2 linked regions of the Homo sapiens genome follow. The protein of the gene in region 1 purifies or fractionates together with the protein of each later gene. This does not show direct contact. Each region holds a gene or a part of one and is shown on either strand. Other genes may lie near its edges.

Evidence for each region. The genes of interacting proteins can lie anywhere in the genome.
Region 2: the proteins of FAM78B (region 1) and FRYL purify together in Homo sapiens (affinity purification with mass spectrometry; one large-scale study listed by BioGRID and IntAct). This does not show direct contact.

The regions. Positions count from the first base shown.
Region 1 is NC_000001.11:166,164,202-166,168,157, reverse strand, and holds the start of FAM78B (protein FAM78B), read left to right. Parts: upstream 1-1,156; 5' UTR 1,157-1,909; coding exon 1,910-2,172; exon of another isoform or gene 2,173-2,281; intron 2,282-3,956.
Region 2 is NC_000004.12:48,539,280-48,542,779, reverse strand, and holds part of FRYL (protein furry homolog-like), read left to right. Parts: intron 1-658; coding exon 659-753; intron 754-1,819; coding exon 1,820-2,427; intron 2,428-2,711; coding exon 2,712-2,809; intron 2,810-3,500. UniProt on the Homo sapiens protein: Plays a key role in maintaining the integrity of polarized cell extensions during morphogenesis, regulates the actin cytoskeleton and plays a key role in patterning sensory neuron dendritic fields by promoting avoidance between homologous dendrites as well as by limiting dendritic branching.

The sequences.
Region 1 (3,956 bases):
ATTTACATGTCTGGCCTTCCACGGCACTGGATACACAACCCCACTAAAGCAGGTGTCACAGTTTACTATAATAACTTGTTAACAGGTTTATTTTCTCCAGTGATCCATGTGCTCTTTTTCAACTTTGAATCCCTAGTACCTAGCACTATGTTTGGCTCCTGCCAGGCAGGCAGTCAGCCTTTGCTGAATGAAAGGACCAGTGATTGAGGTCTGTGGCTACACGGTAAAATGAGAGAGACGAGTCATCAAAGGGAAAAACTGCTTTTTTGTTAACTATAAAGTGAACCAAGGTGTCAGAACAGTTAAAACAAGGATGAAGAGTGCTTTTAGATCTCAATCAATTTTTAAATTACTCGTCACACCTGTCCTAGCTAAAGACTAACTCTAGCACCTCCTGCGGCCTGTTAGTCAGTATTTCACACTTGGGCAGCAGATCCAGCAAATGTTCAATGATCGCAGAAGAAATACTTAGAAGCTATTGGCTTTGAAAATAAAAATGTAAGAAGATGCCTAGTAAAAGCATCTGCTAAATATTCTTCCTGTTTGGCACATTAGACTGCAGTATCAGACACATGACCGTGGTCATACTGTACACAATGCCCAATGTCTGCCAAAACTCTGGCATATGAGAGACTTAGTGCTGGAGTACGGAGGGATTCTTCCGGTATCCCCACTACACACAGTGGTGGAAAGAAGAGCTTCCAGAACAAACCCAGTCAGGCAAAGAGGCAAATACACTGCATTTAGTAACGCTGCTGGAGCCCGCCCTTCACCCTTTCTGAAGGTAGGATACTAAAAGGGCTCAAGCCTAAATCTAATCCAACAAGCTATATTCTGAATAACGACCAATCTCTGATAAAGCTGTTCCCCTAACCCTTCTGCTGCCCGAAACACTCACTCTACAGCCCCTACTGGGCTACCGGGTTCCCCACTGGACTCTGGACAGCGCCGCGCCCTGCTCGGCCTCACCCACCCGGTGGCGCTTGGGCCCGCCCTAGTCCCCCACCCCCACCCCAGGGCACCACCTACCAGGGCCCCGCCCCGCCTCAGCCCCACGTGCGGGGCCCCACCCCGGCGCTAGCGGCCCTTTAAACACCCCCACCCTTACACATTACCCCCCCCCCACCCGGACGGCAGCCGAATAGGGACAAAACTCATGGCGTACAGCCAGTTTCCTCCGCGGAGCACGTCCTGTGCTGCTCCAGCCGTTGGGGCTCTCCACCCCGGGCCACAGCCTCCTGGCGCCCCCCGGGCCGAGGCAGCCGGGCCGAGGAGTGTCGGTGTGGTCCGGCTACGGGGCGGGGCCGGCGGGAGCTCCGGTCGCCGCCGCCGCCGCTGCTGCCTCCGCCTGCCTCTTGGGCCGCCCGCTCGCCCGCCGCTGGGTGCGCTGCACGCGGGGGGCAGCCGTGGTGCAGAGGTTCATGCAGCGGCGGCGGCGGCGGCGGCTGCTGCTGCTGCCGCCGCGGAGGCAGACAGACCGGGCGCTGCCACCGCCGCCCTCCCCCGGCTCCATGCCGCCGCCGCTGCCGCCTCCTCCTCTCCGGCGAGGGGCGGGGGGCTCCGGCCCGGGGTGGGCACCATTCCTCGCAGCGCCGCTCCCCTCCCTGCCCTCCGCCCGGGCGCTGGAGCCGGCGAGGGCACCCGCCGCCTCCTAGGAGTGCACCCTCCGCGCGCCCTGCCGGAGCGAGGGGGCGGGCGTGGGCGGACGTCGGGGCAGCGGGGACCCCGCGCGGCTGCAAGAGGAGGGGGCTTCCCCAAGGATGCCCGGCGGCTCCCCGCTCCTAGGTGCGAGCTGAGTCTGACCGGGAGCGAGCGGCGCGTCGCCATGCCGGCGTGACGGGCGCCCCCGGCTGCCCGCGCGGGCCCCCGCGCTGCCCCACGCCGCGCCGTGCCGGCACCGGGCTGCAGGATGGGCTGTATCCAAAGCATCACCTGCAAGGCGCGGATCCGGCGCGAGAACATCGTGGTGTACGATGTGTGCGCCACCATCGACCAGTGCCCCACGCGCATCGAGGAGACCTCGCCCATCGTCCTGCGCTACAAGACCCCCTACTTCAAAGCCTCCGCCCGCGTGGTCATGCCCCCCATCCCCCGCCACGAGACCTGGGTGGTGGGCTGGATTCAGGCGTGCAATCAGATGGAGTTCTTCAACACCTACAGCGACCTGGGCATGTAAGCGACTCGCCGCGCGGCACGGGAGCGGACTCTGGGCCCCCAGCTCTGCTTGCCACCTTGACCCCCCTCCCCAGCTCCTTCCTACTGCTGTCCCCATCGTCTTTCTAAACCTTCCTCCCGCCTCCTCTCCCACCTCCCTCCTCCCTACGCTTTTGTTTCAGTGACAGGGCGGGTGTAGGGAGGCTCCTTGCGAAGGCATTTTCTCGTGGTTTGCTTCTGACTTCCCAGAAACGCGAGGAGAAAGGTGCGGGGCGGGAAGAACGCGACAAGGAGGGTTCGAGAGGCGGAGGTGGGGATGGCTGGCGAGTGCCTGGCGAGTTTCAGGGCGCCGTCTGTGCTTTGTGGGGCTCCCCGGGAAGAGTTTGGGGGAAACCATAGAGGAGTGGAGTGGAGTGCCGGGGGCGCATGGGCTGTGCCGCGCGTCCTTTGGAGAAACCGGAGCGGGCTTGGAAGAGCAGGTCCCGGGCATCCGAGCGGGAGTTGGTAGTTCTGTCCTTGCCCTCGCGACTGTTGAAGTTTCGAACCCTTGTCCCCCGGGCCAGGGAGCCCGGAGGCGTTTCCGTCTGGAACCACAAGCCGGACACAGTTGCCTCTCTGTTTCCGCGCCCCCTGGACCAGTTCTGGTGGGGAGCTGGAAGGCACCGAGTGCGTCCCGGCCAAGAAGGGCGGATAGCCTTGTGCGAGCAGCGTTCGGCTGGCGCGGCGCGGGGTGTTTCTTATGCTAAAGGAAAGGATGGATCTCTTGTCTGTCTAGGGTCCTTACTTTTTAAAACTTTCCTAATTGCGGCACTGGAAGGGATTCCCCTGGCGCCCACCGCCGAATTCTATCGGCGAGCTGGGAGCTCTCCAACTTTCAGCAGCGCCGGTTGGTGCGCGCCGGGCTTGGCTGCTGCGGTGAAGACCAAGGATCGCCGCGGCTCCTCAACCGCCAGGGGCCGCAGGCTACGGGCGGTCGCGTCCGGGACTTTTATATTTACCAAATTTTCATAACTCCGCACCCGCCTCCTTTCAGAACTAGACTCTGAGCAGGTGGCAACGACAATAGCTAAAAGGTTTAGGGCCTGCCTTCTACCTGCTGTTACAATGTAGGTCTAGAACACCCTAATTAGCCAGTCTGCAGCCTACAGGGAAACCCTTTTTCTGGAAATTCAACCTCATTTCACTTATTAATCTAAAACTCTAGAGCTCCCAAGGTTCGTCTATTTAATATGGATATGGGGTGGGGGAGTTCCCATTTTAAAAGGTCAAACCATCTTTTTAGCAGCAGTTTGCAGGCTTTTTATTGCACTCTGAGAGCATGTCAGTTAACACTAGTCATAGGCGCTAAAAGAAATTTGACAGGTCGTTGTTTTCCTTTTTTCCTCCCAAAGATTTTGCACTTTTCTCTTTAAGCACAAAAGCTTAATCCTTGAGAAAACTCAATTCCTAGTGAAGAAATGTGAGGCCCAGTTTCCAATATGCCTCAGCACACTGTATTCTTCCAGAGAAGACAGCTAGATGTGAGAAATGGGGGATATTTTATTTGGGGCGAATCATGCCATTTAAAAACTGACATACCCTCAAAAGAATGATTATATGTGAACACATGTGTCTCTTAAAACTGCTTTTTAAAATAAATCCATTGTTTCCAGCCAAGTCAGAGAAAGCCACAGGCAGGGCAAGAGCCCTTCCTCTCATTTCCCTGGCCTCACCCTGATGGCAGTGGGTTGCTGGAGGACAGCAAGTGCTCCCCACAGCAGCCTGGGGCCCCTGGTAGAGGAAGCCAGGAGTGACTGTGCAGA
Region 2 (3,500 bases), on another chromosome or scaffold:
GGAAGTTATGGAGGTAGAGGAAAGTGGTCAGATTTTTAATGTGTATTTTAAAAGTGATATTTTCAGCCAGGCACTGTGGCTCACACCTATAATCCCAGCACTTTGGGAGGCTGAAACGGGTGGATCACCTGAGATCAAGAGTTCGAGACCACCCTGGCCAACATGGCGAAATCTGTCTCTACTAAAAATACAAAAATTAGCTAGGTGTGCAGGCGCATGCCTGTAGTCCCAGCTACTCGGGAGGCTGAGGCAGGAGAATCACTTGAATCCGGGAGGCAGAGGTTGCATTGAGCCAAGATTGCACCACTGCACTCCAGCCTGGGCAATAGAGCAAGACTACGTCTCAAATACAAACAAACAAACAAAAGTAATATTTTCAAGACTTGCTGGTGGATTCAGTTTAGATGTGAAAGAAACAAGGATGGTTCCTAGATTTCTGACCTGAGCAATTTTGAGTAAATTGTGGCACCATTACAATCAATTTATACACCATTGATTGGATGAGTTTGCATCAATCAGCAAGATCATGTTGCTCAAGAGTTTAATCATTTTGTAACATAACATGGAGTTTGTTCTATTTTAAAATCCCATTAGGAAGTCCATTGCAGTTTCTTTATTCCAGAGCATAATTAATTAAAATCTGCCTTTTTCCCCCCAGGGATTTGTGATTGAGCTTCTTCTCACATTGGAATCTGCAATTGATACTTTGGCTGAAACCATGAAGCATTATGATCTTCTTTCTGCCCTTTCTCAGTAAGAATTTAAACCAGGCAACCTAATATAGAGAGAACTTGAATAGCTAACTACATATAGCTATAACTTTTAAAATTCTAATATTGTTAGTAAGCACAATACTGCCCAAATTAGATGGATTACCAGTGGGGAGATGGGCCGCAGACAGTGAGGACTTGTGAAAAATCCAAGTGCTGATTTTAGCAGTGCTGTTCTTCTTCTAATGTGCTGGTTAGAGATCTTTCTAATGCACCACTTCATTCCTGCCACATTCAGGATTCAGCATCCTGTTTCTCCCCCAGCTGTCTGGGAGCCTTAAGGCTCTCCCACCTTTCACATATTGTTCCTTCTCCCTGCAGCAGCCTCTCTCCCCACTTTTTCTACCTTGCAAGCCCAGAATTGACTAGTCCTTCAAGTCCCATCCCAAATGTCACTTCCTAGCTAAGCATTTCTAACTCCTTCAGGGTAGTGCTAATTATTCCATCCTTTGGGTTCTCATAGTGATTTTTTCATATTGTAATAATAGCAATTAGCAGGCTATAAATTTATCCATTTACATATCTATCCCCTCTTTCAAAAGACTTGTCTAATATTCCTTCCTTTTCTATACAGCTGGCAAACATAAAAAGCATTCAGTCAATATTTTCTTAATAAAAATTGGATGTGAGGAAGGAGGAGAAATCGAAAATTTTTGAGCTTAGTTCTTTTGAAAAGAGTGTGTCATTGACAGAAATAGGGACATCAGGACCATCAAGTTTGAGGACAAGACAAATGAAGTCAGCTTTGGACATAATGTATGCCTAAATCTCAGAGCTGAACGTTGTTAGCGATTACTATAGCAGAATTTTCTCAGCAAGTAGAGCCTCCTTTCAACTCAAAGGAAACTGTTAGCCACAAGAGAAAAGATACTGTTGTACATTTTCTTTGAATTTGAAGGGAAAACTGAAATTTGATTCAACAAAGTCAGATATACTGAAAAATGATTTTTCTGGTACCAGTTACTATTTTTCAGTGTTTTCAGAAGTAAAATTAATTTAGCAAAAGAAGTGACTGGGTATGCATTCATCTATTCTTTCTTTTTTTTAAGAACCTCATATCATGATCCTATAATGGGAAACAAGTATGCAGCTAACAGGAAAAGCACTGGACAACTCAATCTAAGCACAAGTCCCATTAATAGTAGCAGTTATTTGGGATATAACAGTAATGCAAGAAGTAACTCTTTGAGATTAAGTTTGATTGGTGACCGACGAGGTGACCGGCGGCGGAGTAACACACTGGATATAATGGATGGACGGATAAACCATAGCAGTAGTTTAGCAAGGACTAGAAGCCTTTCCTCTCTAAGAGAGAAAGGAATGTATGACGTGCAGTCCACTACTGAGCCTACCAACTTGATGGCCACCATTTTTTGGATAGCAGCATCTTTATTAGAATCAGATTATGAATATGAATACCTCCTGGCTCTCAGGCTTCTCAACAAACTGCTTATCCATTTGCCTTTGGATAAATCAGAGAGTCGAGAGAAGATTGAAAATGTACAAAGCAAATTGAAATGGACTAATTTTCCAGGACTTCAGCAGCTCTTCCTTAAGGGTTTTACCTCAGCATCTACACAAGAAATGACCGTGCACCTCCTCAGTAAACTCATTTCTGTCTCCAAACATACATTGGTGGATCCTTCCCAATTGTCAGGTGATGTTAATATAATTGCACCAGCACTTTGCATTTTATGCAGTAAAATGTAAACTAATCATTTGTTTTGAAATCTACTAATTTCTGCTTTTTGCAAATAGTCATAGTTTTTATACGCTAGGTAGCTTAAATTATTTGGTAAAAGCCAAAAAAGAATTAGAAGATCGAATATCCCAGGAAATGAAAAGAAAATGGTTTCTGTGAACCATCTAAAAAAATAACTTTAACTTTTAAAATAATGTGCAATAAAATTGGTTATTGTTTGCTTTTTTTTGTTTTGATAGGCTTTCCTCTTAACATCCTTTGCTTATTGCCTCACTTAATCCAGCATTTTGACAGCCCAACTCAGTTTTGCAAAGAAACAGCTAGTCGAATAGCAAAGGTAAGCAAATGTTATGCTGAAAGGTAACACTATAGGGAAATTATTTTGTAGTCTATGTTAAAGGAGGGGGAAATCTCTTAAAACTCCTTTTATTGTCACTTCCCATATGAATTTTGCATTTAAATTTTTATTTTTATGCACATAAAGGACTTGCATAGTAATGGCGTAAGTTACAACTGCTCAAATGACAGTAAATAAAATTATTTAGTTAGAGTAACACTCCTCTGAGTCTGAGTCTTTTTCTGCTCTTTTTCCATACTTCTGCCTCTCTGTCTGTTTCTCATTCATTCGTTTATTTACTACCAAATATTTACTGAGCACTGGGTTAGATGCTACAAATACATGATAAGCAAAGTAGATAGTGTACTTTATCATGGGGAATGCAGTGAAGTAAATAGACAGTAATCAGAGAGTCTGATTTGGTATTTTATCGGGGCAGGGGGAGGGTGGGGGGCAGAATACTCAAGGAGCACACAAAACAGAAGTCTTCCTAGAGGAAGTGATATCTAAGCTGACTTAGATCACTATCGAAGAATGGATAGGAATAAACCAAAGTAAGGTCCCTGGATGAGAGGCAAAGAGTGGAGTTCAGGGTTTGAAGTTTTCTAGGCAGAAGAAATTACAGATGCAGAGGTTCTGAGGAAGAAGAGGGCATAATATATTTTAGGATTTGGAAAATTCTCTGTCCCTT